Regions from separate parts of the Homo sapiens genome. Here region 2 is linked to region 1. Evidence: fine-mapped expression QTL. A gene starts in region 1. The other region holds a variant in brackets. All regions are shown on one strand. Distances are between the middles of the regions.

Region 1 (8,329 bases):
CAGAAGGACTCCACTTGGCCAGCTCATCTTTTTGATCCAGGCCACCCATGCCACAGCCCTTGGCAGCTTAGCGGTTGGCTGCCGTCTGGTCCAGCATTCACCCTGCTCCAATCAGCCAACGAGGAGGGACAGAGATTTGGCTGTTTACACAGAAGGGCTGTGGCAGGAAGACACTGTCAGCACAAAGGACATAAAAATGAAGGCAGGGAGCTTTGGTTTTGTTTTTTATTCATTCTTACAACTCCCAAGAATGGGCAGTGGGAGGAACTGGGCCTGTGGGGTCAGCAGGACCATGTGACGAAAAGAATGTGCAACTTTTTCCAACGTGATTCGCCTTGTCTTATTTTTTTTTAAATCTGTGAATTGTTGGGTCAATTCCAACATGATAAAGAGCCACATTTGTTAATCTTGGCATCAAAACGATGTGTTTTCAAAATCCGAACAAAACTAAAGAAGTAACAAGTTTTAAAGAAGCAAGACTAAGAAGTAAAGAAGTCACATCCTGTGTGGAAAGTCTGTTTCCAAAGAAAAAAACACAGATGAGAAAAAACACTCTGCTGTGTGCTGAATAAAGACCTACCCCACCCTTGTGGGAAGCTTGAGCACTCTGCTCTGATGTGAGGGTGTGGGGATCCGGGTTCTAGACCAGCACCTCCTCCAGGGCTTCCGCACGCTGCTCATTGGGCGCACCTTGTTTAGGGTTCTGTTGAGGGCATTGTGGTGGCAATGGCACCCACGGAACAAGAAGGGCATGGGCACAGGTCTCAAGGGCCTTATCTCCGGCGTGTCCATCAGAAATGAGCGCCCTCACACCTGCCAGTCCAGCCACGCTGACGTGCAGAATGTAGGCCAGGACTCTCCAGCTTGAGGAGCGGGGGCTGGGCTCGGCTTCCAGTACCTTTCTGGAACTTCTCATCTCTGGACATTGAAAACCTGGAGCACCCACATAGCCCCCCGGCATGACAGCTAACACCTGGGTGGTCCTTTCTGCTCGTTTATCAGCCCATTACTTTCCCCAATGGCCCTGCTGGTTCTGTTTGGTTTCTACAGTCGCTTCCTTACAGATGGGGACGTGGAGGAAAACTCGGGCTATTTGCTGTTGTTTCTGTTGTTGTTTTTTTGTGCTGTGTTTTGTCAAATCAGAAAACTCTTCATTTGCTCTATTTCCAGCAGTGAGAATGGGCTGTGCAGAGGCCGCCCACACCTGGCAGGGGTCAAGGTGAGCCCTCGGTCGCCACGTTCCCTGGGACTCCCAGGATGGCAAGCCTGGCAGCAGTTCCTGTTTTCTTTGGTGTCATTGGAAATGCTACTGTTTGGATGTAGTTTGTTGGGATGCCAATATATCAAGAAAGGCTTCCTTGTTCTCCCTCCTGAAATTCTGCACACACGACTGTTTTTAGCAACAGTGATGTGATCTCTATTTTTGGTGGCAGTTTTGAGCACCCTGTCCGTTGGAACTTTTTGTGTTGTAAACAGACAGGAGATCCAGCCCAAATGGAGGTAAGTAATAAGGACCATGCACTCACCTCGGTGGAGAGGCCACGGGTTCGGAGACCTTCAGGAGAAGTTTGATCCAGCCGCTCAGTGATGCAGCAGGGACCGAGAGCCCTTGGGTGCCCTGCTCCCTCCACATTCCCAGGGGCTCCTCATGCTGCCCTGGCAGCTCTGCAGAAGGCCTCCCTGAAGAAAGGCAGCTGGTCCCAGCTAGAGTCCCAGGGTTCATGCTGGCTGAGCCCCCTTCTTGTTTCTTCCCCAACCCAGAGCTATTCTCACCTCCCCTGAAGGCCTTCCCAGGTGATGGGGGCCATGGAGACTGCATTGGACAGCTCTGTGCACTGTCCATGAAGCACTTGCTGCAGGACTCCCTTAGAAACGTGAGGCTTTAAACACCTTGGGACCCCAGGAGGAGGCATGTGTCCAGCTAGCGGTGCCCCTCTGTGGTGTGGAGAACGTTCTACTCAGACGTTCCTGAGTGGGAACTTGGCAGCACAACTGGGAAACCTGTTGCTTCCAGCCCCGCGGGCCTGTAGACCCCCCACCAGAGATGGGCCCTCCTGCCAGGCTTCCTACCTTGTGCAACTTAGCCTCCTGCTGCACCCCATCCACCAGCTCTGCCAGCACGAGAGGTCATCCCACACGCTCCTGCTTCCAGGCCACCAGCTGTCCCCCATGGCCCCCATCTCCCCTGTACCCTCTGGACTTTGCAGAGACCCCTCTGCTCTCCTTGGGGTTACAGAGCTCTGCATCTGTCTCCTCCCCTCCCCTGCAGCTGCTCCCAATCCTGCACCCCACACAGAGCCTGGGGCTCCACACTCCTTCACCACTGACCACACCTGCCAGGTGCTGCCTGCATCTCAACTCAGGCCACCTGCTCCCGCCCTCCATGTTGGGTTCATGCAGCGATTCTCCCAGGCCACTCTGTGTCTCCCTCTGCTCCAGCATCCTGCTGCCTAGGCGGCCGTGCCACTGCAGCCCTTGCTCCAGAGTACCTGCCTGGAAACCTTGCCCCGGCTCCCCAAATGCACCTCCCTTCCCACAGGACATCCATTCAAGGCCACATCCAAACCTCCAAATGCCTCCTGAACACTTCACCTAGAGGCCTCACCTGCCTGGTGGCTCACGGAGGCTGGCGCCATCGCCTCCCCCCGCCACAGCCAGACTGGTCTGCTCCCCCTCCTCTTCACGTCCCCTCTTGGTGATCACCTGCTCCCCCATTTCCCACCTCAAGCAGTCTCACCCTCCTCTGTGCCCCGCCCCTGGCTCCTACCTACGCAAGGTGGCAGCCTCTGGCCACCCTGCACGCCCAGCCATGCAGAGCCTGGGAAACGACAGGACATGTGGCTGTCCTTTCACGGCCCCTGTCACCTCCCCCAAATCCAGCCAGGGCTGAGACGCCCCACACTGTGGCCCCCGGCATAAGGCCTTGATCCTTCCTGAGGGCAGGATGGGGGCAGTTTTGTTCTGTGAAGTTCCTTGGCCTTGAGCTTAGCTGGACCCCGCTCCCGGAAAGCCCGAGAAACAGACGTTCCTCTGTGAAAGCCCCTTCTGAGCACCTGCAAGGAGCACTCTGCCATCCCACTCCTGGTTCAGGCTTTCATCCGCGTGGAGGGCCTTGTCTTCTGTGAGTCCCCGCCTCAGCCTCACCTGGCTCCTAGGAGGCTCTGGGAAGGTTAGCTGGGCTGTTCCCCAAACAAGGGGCCACAGGAAGGTGGGGGCTCCTGAGGGTCTGGGAGGCAGGGGAGACTATGTGTGCCCTTTCTCTTCCGCACCTGAAACCTGACTTTCCCTCACTGGAGACCTGAGGATGGAGTGCAGTGGCTTAGCTAAGCTTCTGTTAACAGCATGCTCACTGTTTTGAAACAGAAATGAAAGAACATTTGGGAGTTGGGGTATGTGCAGAGAAAACATTTTCCTTGAATGTCTTTACTGAATGGGTGGGAATAGGTATGTGTGAAGGGGAAAAGTTCAGGGTACAGTGGTCAGGTCCTTGGGAGATGTCGGGGAGGGCCGTCTGGCCCAGCTCCTGAGGAGGGTGGGCCCAGGCTCATCCTATACGCACTAGTCCTGACGCCTCACAATTAATCAAATGGCTAAAAACAAACACAAAAGAAGCCCTCAGCATTGTGTTACCAGGGCAGCGGTGTGATGTCATCTGTTCATTCCAAGCTGTCACCCCGAAGCTGAGTGAAGTACGTGGTGAGGACAGGCAGATTGTGCCTTACGTGCATAGTGCAAATAAGGTTTGTGTAGAGTATTTTGCTCATTGACTGTGGAATTCATTGATTATGTTATTCACTGCACGTTCAGCTCCGCAAAGCGTCTTCTGTGTACCTGGGAGGAGCATGGTGCCATTTCCCTTCCTCCTTCAGACTTTCTTCTACATGGAAGGCCCCGTCCTCCACAGGTCCCAGCCTCAGCTGACACTCGGGTCCCAGGAGGCTCTGCGAAGGTTTGCTGGGCGGTTCCCCCGCACGCCGGGCTACAACAAAGGTGGGCGCCACTGAGGGGCCTGGGAAGTAGAGGCGCAAGAACCTGTGTCAAAGCATGTTGCACATTATCTGATTATTTTATTCAAAATCAATCATCAGATCCCATACAAAATGTTTTCATGTAGATTATCTTACTCGTTGTCACAAAGACCCACAAGAAAGGTAGAATTGAGGTTTCTAATCCCTATTTTATAGCTGAGGAAACTGAGACCCAAATTACGTTTCCAACAGTGGCTTTCTGCTTCTTCCAGGAACACAGCATGACACGTGCTGTGAACCTCAGCTGTGAGACAACCGAAGGAGAGACAACATTCAGCAAAAACAGAGCCCAAACTGTCCCCGTTTCTCTCAGCCCCAACTGCTCCATGGCTTGGAGTGCAGCAAATGTTTCAGCCGCGCTCAAAGGGAAGGCTTTGCTCTGGAGTCAGCATGCAGAGCTCGCCTCGACTCCCCTCCATGCCGCTCCTCACCAGCACTGGCTGGGTTTGAATCTCAGCTCCCTGGCTCCTCGCTGTAAGCCCTGGAATGCAAACCCCAAGGGCCAAACACCCCGAGGCTCTCAGGTCCCAGGCGCGGACACCTTCCTGGCCTTGGCTGTCATGGCCCAGATGGAAGCAAAGACAACTCCCCTCTCCACAGGTCGGCTGGTCCTCCTGCCCCGAGAGCAGGAGCCCAGGCACAGGCTCTGTACAGAGTTCTCCATCTACTTCTCCCAGGGTGGCTATGCAAAGGCCGTCTGCCTCTCGCTCTCTGGGTCCCACCTGCAGCCTGTCCCAGTGGATTCTGTAGGCTCCACAGTGATGCTGGGAAAAGACCCAAACACCCGGACAAAGCACGTGGACAGCTGCCAATGCCAAAACGGCAGGAAGCAAGGGAAAGGCAGCTGGCTCCGACCCTTTGCCAACCGTGTGCAACGCTGCAGGCACCTAGAGCCAGCGAGGAGCTACCAAACTGGTTCCCATCTATGCTTGCAGCGGCTGCTGTCGCAGAGGCAGGACAGGGGTGCATGGCTATGCCAAGTATCCTTCTGGGATGAGCCGATTCTCTTGTCCCAGGTCGGGCATGATGGAGAGGCCAGAAGGTGTGTTTGAATAGCAGGCATTGGGGGTTTGCAAAGGGCTGTGATTTCCTGGGCCTCCCGTCTTAGGCAGGCTCTGGGTTCTCCTTGGTTCTTCCCTTGGAGCAGGGACCTGGCTTTGGATGACCATGGATCTTTCCTGGTTTCTGCTGTTATCTTGCTGTGTGACCGAGGTCAAGTCCACACTCCCTTCCCAAGCTTGTTTTCTCTGCAGTAAAACTGCCATTTGGAACTGAACCCTTCAAGGGGAGGCGGCTGAAACAGTGGGGGTGATGCTGGGTGCTAAGCCCTACCCCTTCTCCTAAATACCTACTTCTCTCCTTTTTTTTCCTTTTTTACCTATTAATGGGTTAGACAGCCAAAAACCCTCTCTGAAAGAGTGTCCTGGCCCAAGTCCGCCTGGGGCACTGTTGTGAGCCTCAATTTCTACGGATCTATGCCTGGAAAGCTTTTAGCATAAAACGTTTTAGGTAGAAGACCGGGATCACGGAACAGGATCAGGACCCCAGAACAGGACCGAGACCATGAAACAGGAAGCAAGCTACATCCAGCACCCAGTTCAGAGAGAGGGCTGGGGACGCCGACACTCCACCTCCTTCCCAGCAAACTCGGAAGGCTCCAGGGCATCCCTGGAGCTGCTCTGGCAGAGAAGAATCAGTGTCCACACGTGCAGCTCTCGCTCGAGGAAGGGCAGGGGCGACATCAGAGGCATGCTTTGCACAGCACACGCTTCTAGAATGGCTGGGATTTCAACCTTGAAAGTCTCAACTCCTTCTTCCTCCTCAGATCTTGGGATTTTGAAAGTGATTCCTAAATGCCTTTCGATCTCATTTTTGCCGAAGGAGATGGTCCTAATTTACTGCATTCCAATTGGAAACATTTTTGAGAGTAAAAATACCTGAAGACATGTTGGGCCTGGAGGTAGCAGACTCAAAATTAAAGCAGGGGCCCCTCTATCCACCGCCCCCCAGATTGCATTAAACACAGCATGTTGGGGATCAGTGAGTTGCCATGGCCCTGCAATCAGACATTTTGCCCTCTGAAATTTAGCCTTGATTTTGAAGCCCTGAGTTTAGTATATTTAGATGAGCTGACGGGCCCAGGGAGTCACTCAGAAAGGGTAGAGGTCCTTCAGAGCTGCGTTAAGATACAGTGGGAGGGGGTCAAATTGCTAATTTCATCTGCCACTGAAAACTCCCAAACAGCAGAGAACTTCCCAGAAGACTTGTGAAGTTGGGAGTCTGCAGGTGGCGGGGGTTGGGTGGGGAGGTGATGGCATTCTACCCCTAAGAGAGCATTTTGAAGTTGAAGCTCAACTTAAAATATTTGTGCCTATTTTTGAGACAGGGTCTTGCTCTGTCACCCAGGCTGGAGTGCAATGGCACCATCTCAGCTCACTGCAGCCTCGACCTCCCAGGCTTGAGCAATCCTCTCACCTCAGCCTCCTGAGTAGCTGGGACTACAGGCATGCACCACCACACTTGGCTAATGTGTGTATGTGTGTGTGTGTTTGTAGAAATGGGGTTTTGCCCTGTTGCCCAGGCTGGTCTCAAACTCCCGAACTCAAGCCACCTGCTCTCCTCGGCCTCCCAAAGTGTTGGGATTACAGATGTGCATCATCGTGCCCAGCCACATTATGCTTTTTAGAGGGACATCACCAATCAGACAGTGGCCTGGGCTGGACACAGCATCCCTGGAAGACGGCCCCTCTCTAAGGTGTCATCTGCCATTAGCCAAGGACCCTCTTGTCTCTCTAGCTCCAAGTCTCCACAGAGGATGTGCTCAAAAGTGAGTGTGTGTGGCCTTGCCCCCCACTTCTCCTGCCTGCAGGTGGGGAGGGAAGCAGGTGGCAGGAGGAGGTGGCTGTCTGGGGCTGCCCTCCTCTGTACCTGTGCGTGATTTTACTCTATGCTGAGTGCCAGCAGGGAGGATGGGAAACAACATTTCTGTCTGGTTATCAAATGATCGCCATCATTGGCCTCATGGCATCACCACTGTCTTCATTGCTGGCACCTTCCCGTCCTCCCTCCAGCCAGGGAAGTCTGACCCAGGCACAGGTGACAGGAAGTGTCACTCTGCCTTAGGGGTCTGCAATCTTGGGATGTCAAACAGGCCCCACGGTGCCTTGCACCCCTGGTCTCACACTCTGTATCATTTTCTGTACTGTTCATGTGGTTCTCAAAGCAGGCGTGGCCAGGGAGTGGGACAGCTTTGTGTCCGTGTCTTGGAGCTGCTGCAAAGAGGCCCCGAGGGCCGGGGGCTCAGGCCACAGAAACGGATCTTGTCCCGGCAGTGGGGGCTGAAGCCTGAGATCACAGTGTGGGCGGGGCTGGGTCCTTCTCAGGCTGTGTGGGGGGTTCTGTCCCAGGCCTCTCTCCTGGGAGTGCAGGCACTGGCTCCGCCCATGTCCTTCACCTCCCCTTCCCTCTAATTGTGTCTGCCTCTGTCACCACATCTCCTCTTTATGAGGACATTGGCCCTATTGGATCAGTGCCCTCTCTAATGACCTCAATTTAAATCAGTGACCTCTGTGGAGACCCTCTCTCCAGATAAAGCCTCCTTCAGATAAAGCCTCTTGCGGATAAAGCCTAAAGCACTGGTGGTCAGGACTTCAACGTGTGAATTCCAGGAGGACACACTTCAGCCCATTACAGACCTGATGGCTTCTGCCAGACACCCAGCCGATCCCCATGGCTTATGGAGGAAGAAGACAAGTGGAGACGGGGAGGTGGTCGGGCGACCCTTTCCACGGCCAGCAGCAACTGCACCCGTGTCTGGGCACCTCCTGAGTGCTGTAAGCCCCCATGCATCATCAAGACGGAGGCCCAGGCAAGGGCAGGTGGGAGCTGAAACCCGTCTCAGGAGGTGGATATTTTTATCATTGGGTGTTTGTATTTTTCTTATTATAAGAGCCTTCGTCTTTTTCTTCTTGCACGTCATTTATTGCTTGCTTTTATTCTTATCTGGTTGTTTTCTGTGTGGGTTACAGATCCCCAAGCCACCTTCCCTTGGTCCCAGCCCAGATTGTGGCTCCCCTGTGTGCCTCCCAGGCCCCAGGATAGACGTCAACCGTGTCCCCTTGTGGGTGCCTTGAGCTTAGCACCTGCCTGTCCCTTCCAGGGGCCCCTCTAATACAGGACTTACATCTTCATGAAGACACTAACTGTACTAGTGCGTGTTCTCCAGAGGAGCAGAGCCACTCAAGGTGTGCACATCAGAAGAGAGCTATTTTAAGGAACTGGCTGACGCTGGCAAGTTCAAA
Region 2 (8,329 bases), 200 kb after region 1:
CAGTCTTGCTCAACTCCCAGGTGGCTTCTAATTCACACCACAACCTTCTGAGACTAAGCGTTGGCTTTAATGCCCAGTTGTAAATAAAAGTCTGGAAGTCTGGTTACTGCACGCCTTTTCACCCAAGAAGTCCTCCAGACGACTTCCTTCCAGCTTTCTCAAATTCAGGGCTAAGTTGTAATTGTCAATAGATTTTACAAGTCCATACCTAGTTCTGCCTTGACCATACACTCACAAGCTCATCACTAGTGGTGCAGACTGCACAGTGCTTCCTAAGGCCATTCTCCACCTGCCCATTCCGTTCCCAGCATGCATTGTGCCTGTACCACTTCCTGAAAGTCTCAGTCTCCTTGCTCTTTCACCAAAAGTTCATTTATCTGTTTTTTTTTTGTCAACCTGAAATACTTTAAAGTGTAACATACAAACTGTAAAATACAGAATTTTTTTCAATGTTTATAGACATATAGGCATAATTTATATTATTCTTTGTGAGAAAGAGTCTTGCTCTGTTGCCCAGGGTGGAGCACAGTGGTGCAATCAAGGCTCACTGCAGCCTCAACCTCCTGTGCTCAAGGGATTCTCCCATCTCAGCCTCTTGAGTAGCTGGGATTACAGGCATGCACCACCATGCCCAGTAAATTTTTTTTTATTTTTTATTTTTTGCAGAGACAGGGCTTTGCTATGTTGCCCAGGCTATTCTTGAACTCCTGAGCTCAAGTCATCCTCAAGCCTCAACCTCTCAAAGTGCTGGGATTACAGGCACGAGCCACAGTGCCTGGACAATTTATATTCTTTATATGTAATCTTAAATGCATTCATTCATCTCAATGAATTTTTACAAATGAATAAACTCCTGTAACTATCACCAAACTCAAGATACAGCACGACCAGCATTCTGGTTTTTTTTTTTTTTTTAACTTGCCAGATGGAGATAGAATGTATCTTTCTCATCTCTGTTGTTTTAAGTTTTATGCACATTTCCAATGCAGTCCCAGCATTTTCAGCGCTCCATGTCTTGACTCACTGGCGTCCATTTTAAATGTTTCCTGCTTGCTGCCTGCATTGATTCAATGTTGCTTTTTACCAAAACAGAGGAACTATAGTAAACTTCTTCAACTTAGAGCCTTCTACTAAGGGGGCTGAATTTATTAGATTGGTGCAAAAGTAATCGCAGTTTTTGCACCAACCTAAGAATTTTATGATCATGATTGCCACATGGTTTAACTTCAAAGCAATTCTGTGCTTTTTGCAGAGGGGAGCTGAGGCTTCGTGGAGTTGAAGGTGAATTTCCCAGGCAGGCGGGAGAGACTGTACTGAGAGGGCTCCCAGGGAACCCAGCTGCATTCAGCCCAGCACTGTCAGCAGTGGAAGGACTTACCTGACCACCCACAGGGGCTTGCCTTCCACAGGCATGTTCTCACACTCCAGCCCGCGTCAGACTCACCTACAAGGCTCTTCATAGCACAGGCTTCTGGGCCCTATCCCCAGGGTTTCTGATGCAGTAGGTCGTAGGGTCTCAGATTTTGCATAGTTAACAGGTCCCCGGGTGACGCTGGTACTGCCTTTGGGGGACCCCACTCTGAGAACCGCTGTGTTGCAGCAAGCTGGGTCCCAGCAGCGATGTAGGGAGGGGCAGGCTGTGCTAAGCCTCAGCTAACAGAGCGGCCGTCCACGGCTCCTTCTGTCTGAGGTCCCTACTGAGGAGGGAAGGAATTCTTCCCAGAACTCAGCAACCCAGGAGCTTTCCAGGGCTCTGGGTACCTCTTCCTGATCCGTGGTTCTGGAAGACTTGGGGTAAGAAAAGTGCCTAGGCCGCGAGGTCCTAAGGCGTCTTTATGGAGACATTGCCTGGGATCATGGCCAAGGCTCAGGCTTCAGGGGCAGGAGCTCCAGGCTGGCCATGCACTAGTTATTGACCGGGCAGGGGCAGGAGCAGTGCTAGCATGGTGCCTGGCACAGAGCAGCTGTCATACTTTGCACACGTTTTGGCAGATTTTTCTTAGATGGTGGTATGGGGGTCGTTGAAGGAGCCCTCTTGTGTGCTAAACTGGGCTTGGACCACCTCAGCTCTCCTGAAAAATGGGCAGGGACTGGGAGCCTCATGGGTGTCATACTAAGTCTGACCCAATGACTGAGACAGAGTAAACAAGGGGTGGTCTCTCTGCCCCCTGAGTTCACCCTGTTACTAAGACCCTCGTCATATTGAATTTCAACGGCCTGGTCACCCATGAAGTTCTTCAGCTGGACCGGGGTTTCTCAATCTCGACACTGTTGACACTTGGGCCTGTATAATCCTTTGCTCTGGGGGCAGGGCTGTCCTGTGCATTATAGCGTGTTTAGCGGTATCCCTGGTCTCTACCTACTAGATGCCAGCAGCAGCTCCCTGACATCAAATCACAACAGCCAGAAATGTCTCTAGACGATATCCAGTGTCTCCTAGGGGCAGAACAGCTCCAACTGGTAACTGCTGAGTTACACTGGGAGCTCCCAGGAGGGAGGAACCACACCTTCCATCCCTGCACCTCCAGGACTAGCACACAGTAGGGGCTCACTAAGGGGACATCGAATGTATCCAACCTGCCTGGTCAGATATTCAGCATTTCATGCTCATTATGACATTTGAGTCTCAAAACCACCCGTGAGGAAGACTCATGTGAGAGATGAGGAAACCGAGGCACTGCAGGTGGGACCACTTGCTCAAGATTTCCTGGCTAATTAGCAACGGAGGCAGGACTTGAACTCCATGCTCTGTGCCTGACTGATTGGCCCTAAGACCAGGGTGACACCCTCTGTCCTACTGGCTTGCTTCCTCAGCACAACACCCTCTGTCCCACTGGCTTCCACAGCACAGGAAAGGAGCTCATGCCTGTGTCTGGACTCATGGCCTCAGGCAGGTCCCAATTTCTTTGTCCTTCCCCGCAGTCTCTCCACGGGGCACTTTGAATTCTGCCAGGCACAGCCTCCCAAGTTCACGTTGCTTTTTGAGGAATGACTTCAGCACTAAAACA[T/C]GTTTCACATTTAAGGTTAGGCAGGCCCTGCTTACAGCGGGAGCTTACAAGATCTCCAGCCCTTCTGGGGAAGGATATAAAAGGCTGACTTGAATGTTATGAAAGCTTAGGAAAAAAGGAATGCTAATGATCATACAAAAATAGAATGCCAAAGGAAGCTATTGCCAAACTGAAACAGGACTCAGATTCTGGGATAATGGACACATGAATCACAGCAAAGGGAAAAAAAAGTGAACTGGCGTTTCCCCTTTCATCGAAGTACTGATGATCATAAGATAAATCATGTTTGGAGAAGAATCAGAATGATTGGATTAAGTTTTACTGCAGTGTTTCTGACTAATCTTGGACCCAGGCAACCTAATTGAAAACTTACATCTGCACGGAGCTGGAGAGTTTGAACTCTCCAGCTTTAGTAACTCACCGCTGCAAGGCAGGCCCAGGCCCGGGAGTGCCTTCCTCCACATAACTGCATCGTTCTGAAGACACAGATCCAAAAACTCGATTTTCCCACTATGATTTTACCCAGAAACTTCTCTGAATTCGTAGATTACAATCAGATAATGGTCCATGACGTGAGCATCCCTTTGCCTGGCAGGCTGAAAGTCAAGATAGCCCTAGCTCCAAGCAAGCATTCCTTTTTTTTTTTAATGAGAGAAAAGAGGCAACAATTTTTAAGTGACCTTGCTGTTTGCTTTTGTGAAGTGAAGTGATCTCCCCACTGCTGCGATTTTAATAAGCCCGCAAGTTCTCCTAGGTGCCCTCCAGGGAGGAATTTCATTGTTCATCTGCACTCAATGTTCCAGAAATACCCTGCACCCATGAGCAAATCCTAACATGACTTCCAACTTGGGAGTGGAATTTGCCAAATAAATGAGCTGTTCTAACTGAATGTCCCGGGCCAAGGCTGGCTCCTGTGACGATGCTCTCTGCTGGGTCTACAGGCGGACCCTGTGGTTGACAGGCTCCCAGATGTGCACCCCTGGGCTGAGCTCTGCAGCCCAATGCCCCTCCCATCCACTGAACAGACCTGGACCATTCCAGAGGGGCCAGCTTCCCTCTGTGACCCCCAGCCTCATGCTTCCAAAGGAGGGCAGGAGATGACAGCGTGTGGGGGCACAAGGGTAGAGAGCAGACAAAACAAGAGCTCACTGAGAAATGAGGCAGAGGTGTTGTGCAGGTGCCAAGGGCCTGGGTTTTTGACTCCTACAGAGCTGGGTAGGAACCCTGGTTCTTGTCTTTCCCAGCTGTGACACCCTCAGCAAGTTACGAAAACCATGCAACCTCCAGATATCTCATCCATAAACCGGGTGTTGTCATGAGAATGGAATAACACGATGTGCTTAGTAAAATGGAATGTCAATTACATCCACATCCCTGAACAAATGAGTCCACGAAAAGCATGGTGCAAGTGGAATCTATAGTCACGTGTAAGTCTTGTTATATGCAAAAGCATTACTCCTTGCTGGGAGTCTCTCTCCACAGGACTCGATGTGCCACACAGACAGAAACAGTCCCCGTTGCCTTGTCCTTTGCACCTAATGTCACACCGACACGGAGGAGATACTCGGTAAACATTTGTTAAGGAAAGAAGAGCTTGGCACGGGTTCCCTTTTTCTTCCACCTCAACCCCAGTGCTATCCTCAGGGACCCCTCATTCCCACCTTGCTCTGCACACATCTCACCTGGCCCTGGCCCTGTGCCCTCCTGACACCTATTTGGAACATTTCCCCAACAAACTTGGTATTCCAGACTCAGAAACCGGCTGTCGGCATTGGTCCTGCCACTGTCTGCCTGCCTGCTTCCGGGCATATTGCTTCACTGCTCAGAGCCTCAGTGTCCTCGTTTGCTCTTCCATGAGACAGTCATAGTGCGGGTTTGCAGCAGACCTATGGCTCTTGAACTGTACTCCACAAAATCCCACGTGTTTCTCCCGCCAGAACCTCTGGAGGCCTCATCTCTGGGACCCCACCCTTCACATTAGCCAAGGCACCCTACTTTTTCAGTGAGCAGCTGCTGAGAAAGATATTGCTTCATTTCTAGGTGAAGTTTCGTCCCTCTGGACTGAGAGGTTCCTCCTCAATTCTATCTGTGCTGCACAGGGCCCAATTTGGGACCATGAGGGATATGAGATGTCCCAGAACGAGACCATTACTTCTTTCAGGACAAGAGGTTAATTCAGCAATGGGGAACCCTGCTCTCTGTGAAAGGCTTCCCCACATCCAGAAGCCGGCCAGGCTCATGTTTCCTTGGGTAGCGAGACCTCCAGAGAGTTTGGGTCTTTCCTACAGGACACAGGCACATGCAGAGATGCTGGTCTGTTCTAAACTACCCATTCTAGGCCAGGCATAGTGGCTCATGCCTGTAATCCTAGCACTTTGGGAGGCTGAGGCGGGAGGATCACTTGAGGCCAGGAATTTGAGACCAGCCTGTGCAATGTAGTGAGACTCCCATCTCTACAAAAAAAGAAAAGAAAAGAAAAAAGTAGCCAGAAGTGCTGGTGTGCACCAGTAGTTCCAGCTACTCAGAAGGCTGAGGCAGGAGGATGGCTTGAGCCCAGGAGTTTCAGGTTACAATGAGCTATGATGGTGCCACTGCTCTCCAGCATGGGTTGCAAAGTGAGATCCACTCTCAAAAAAAGCAAATAAATAATTTGAAAACATATTAAACTTTCCTTTCAAAACATTCACCATCTCCTGAACTTTGTCTTCACCACTGCCCTAGAACACCTTGCCTACTTCTCAGACAGAATGAGCACCGTCTTGCCCACCCTCTTGCCCACACTTCCTGTCAAGCCTTACACTATCCCCAGCAGCACCACTGACTTCATCACAAAATTGAGTGGCCACACGCCTTAGACCATGCAGGCTACCATAATAAAATACCACAGACTGAATATTTATAAACAACAAAAATTGATTTCTCACAGTTCTGGGGGCTGGGAAGTCCAAAGTCAAGATGGATTTGGTGTCTAGTGAGGGCCCACTTTCTGGCTCACAGATAGCACCATCTTGCTGTGTCCTTACTGGGTGGGTGGGACCAGCTAGCTCTCTGGGGTCTGTTTTATAAGGGCACTAATGCCACTCATGAGGGTTCTACCTTCCTGAGGCAATCACCTCCCAAGGCTGCTCTTTCTAATACCATCGCATTGGATATTAGGCTGCAACATGAAACCTACATTCAGACCACATAGATCTGGTCAATATGGAGATGGTTTTAGACTGTTTATCACTTACACTAACGGCATAAGCAACATCATCATAATGTCAGCTTTCCACATCCCTAGGATGACACCAAATTGGAGAAGCCAGATGACAGACATGAGGAGTGGGTTGCTCCATTGGGATATCTCACTCTAAAATACAACCAAGCACCTTTATAGCTGGAGCTATGCCCTAAGGGGGGCATGTGGAAAGTTTTACTTCTCACTGGAACCAGGGAAGTGGATAAGACAGTGTCTTGTGGCAGCCCCTCACAAGACAGGGAGCCTCCTATAGGACAGGGAAGTGGATGGAAAATGACCTACAGATGACCCTTACGAGACTGCCCTGCTTGCTGAATCCCAGGAAGGATCACAGAGTGTTCTGCCAAGACATGGGTCCGACTGAGGCTGAGACTCACCTACGCAGAGACGCCCAAGAGCTCCATGGGGGAGCCTTTCCCTACTCTGTCCTCCTACCTTCCTTCTCATTGAGGACAAGGTGTCTGTCCTCTTGTCTAAGGAGAAACTCACCCTTAGAACCTTGGATTTACTAAAACTCTCATTGAAAACCTATTTAATCAATGATCATCCTCTCTTCTGAATCTCCTTCCTACCCAGCCCCTTAGCCACACCTACCTTAAAAAGCACATAATCCACCAAAACATATACCTCTAAGTCTCCCCTGGCTCCTGATCCTCTCTGGTCCTTTCTGAGTGAACTCTCTGACCATCCCCTGAGTGAATCCATTCACACCGCAGGCTCCAGCTGCCCTCTTTTTGCTGGAAATGCCTAACCTGACTCCCGCCCCGTCCTCCTCCAAGCTGCTGCCATGGAACTCTTGCTGATGGAGTTTATCCACCTGAATGCCAGAAAGGCATCTCAGATCCCATGAGTCTGTGCAACAGCCGCGTCTCTGTCCCTTGAGCCTGCTGCTCTTCCTGCCTACACCTCCAAGAGCACGCTTACAGAAGCCAGAAATTCGGCAGGCAGCCTAGACATTCTTCTCTTGTAGCCCTGACATCCAGTATTTATTTAGGGCTACGCTTTGTTAATTCTTAAACATATCTCTTTTTCCCCCTGTACTTCCCTTTAGTATCACCATAGTTTTTGCATCAAGATATATAACCTCATTAACAGGTTTCTTTTGAAAGCTTAGTACTAAATATGTTTTAGTACTAATATGTACTATATACTAAAGTATTTTATTAGATAATTATTATTAGAAATAAAATGTCTGAATAGTCCTATATCTCTTTGAACGGTTTGAACTCATAACTAAGGACTTTCCCTCTAAGAAAACAGCAGCCTTAATCGTTTCACTAGAAACATATCAAATATTCAAGGAGCAAATACCACCACCCTTACACAAATTATTTCAGAACACAGAAAAACAGGAACACTTTCCAACTCATTTTATGAGGTCAATATTATCCTGCAACAACAACAAAAAACAGACATGACAAGAAAAGTACAGAACAACTTCCTTCATTAACATGAATGCAAAGATCCTTAACAAAATAAGGGTGAAAAAATTAATGAGATTTTTAAAATGACAAATATAAGATCATTTTCGCAGATAGTCCACTGATGCTTTAAGTAAGGGGCATTCTATCTTTGAAACACGTTTCAAGCTACCAATCTGAGAAGGAGTCTAAGAAAGAGAAAAAAAAGCCTCTGACATTGGCAGCAGGCTGGACACTCACAGCTCAGTCCTGGTGTTCCTTGTTGAACATAAGCAATCTTAAAGAACACAACATCAGAATGATATGGTTTGGCTGTGTTGCCACCCAAATCTCATCTTTAATTGTAGCTCCATAATTCCCACATGTTGTGGGAGGGACCTGGTGGGAGATAATTGAATCATGGGGATGGTTTCCTCCATACCGTTTTCGTGGTGGTGAATCAGTCTCATGAGATCTGATGGTTTTATAAGGGGAAATCCCTTTCGCTTGGTTCTCATTCTCTCTCTTGCCTGCTGCCACGTAAGACATGCCTTTCGCCTTCTGCCATGATTGTGAGGCCTCCCCAGCCATGTGGAACTGTGAGTCCATTAAACCTCTTTCTCTTTATAAATTACCCAGTCTCGGGTATGTCTTTATCAGCAGTGTGAAAATGGACTAAT

Direction of the effects. Alleles are on the strand shown, and positions count from the first base shown. SD is a standard deviation of normalised expression in the study named.
For the expression in fibroblasts of the gene that starts at base 3,659 in region 1, C is the low allele of the variant in region 2 and T is the other (small effect, 0.30 SD a copy in GTEx).

Evidence for each region.
Region 2: its variant is fine-mapped to the expression of LINC01940 in fibroblasts (GTEx, PIP above 0.99).

Annotation. Positions count from the first base shown.
Region 1 is chr2:238,921,599-238,929,927 of GRCh38, reverse strand. It overlaps LINC01940 (long intergenic non-protein coding RNA 1940), which reads left to right and starts at 3,659. Exons shown (of 10, transcript NR_034162.2): 1 at 3,659-3,689; 2 at 3,808-3,990; 3 at 4,241-5,070; 4 at 5,538-6,855; 5 at 7,590-7,932; 6 at 8,057-8,318. RefSeq lists an enhancer at 5,468-5,637.
Region 2 is chr2:238,723,729-238,732,057 of GRCh38, reverse strand. The region is part of intron 1 of LINC01937 (long intergenic non-protein coding RNA 1937); the gene reads right to left. Among named protein-coding and RNA genes, the nearest start is that of LINC01937, 7.9 kb to the right of the region's middle. RefSeq lists an enhancer at 1,095-1,594. The variant T/C (reference allele first, on the strand shown) is at 3,009.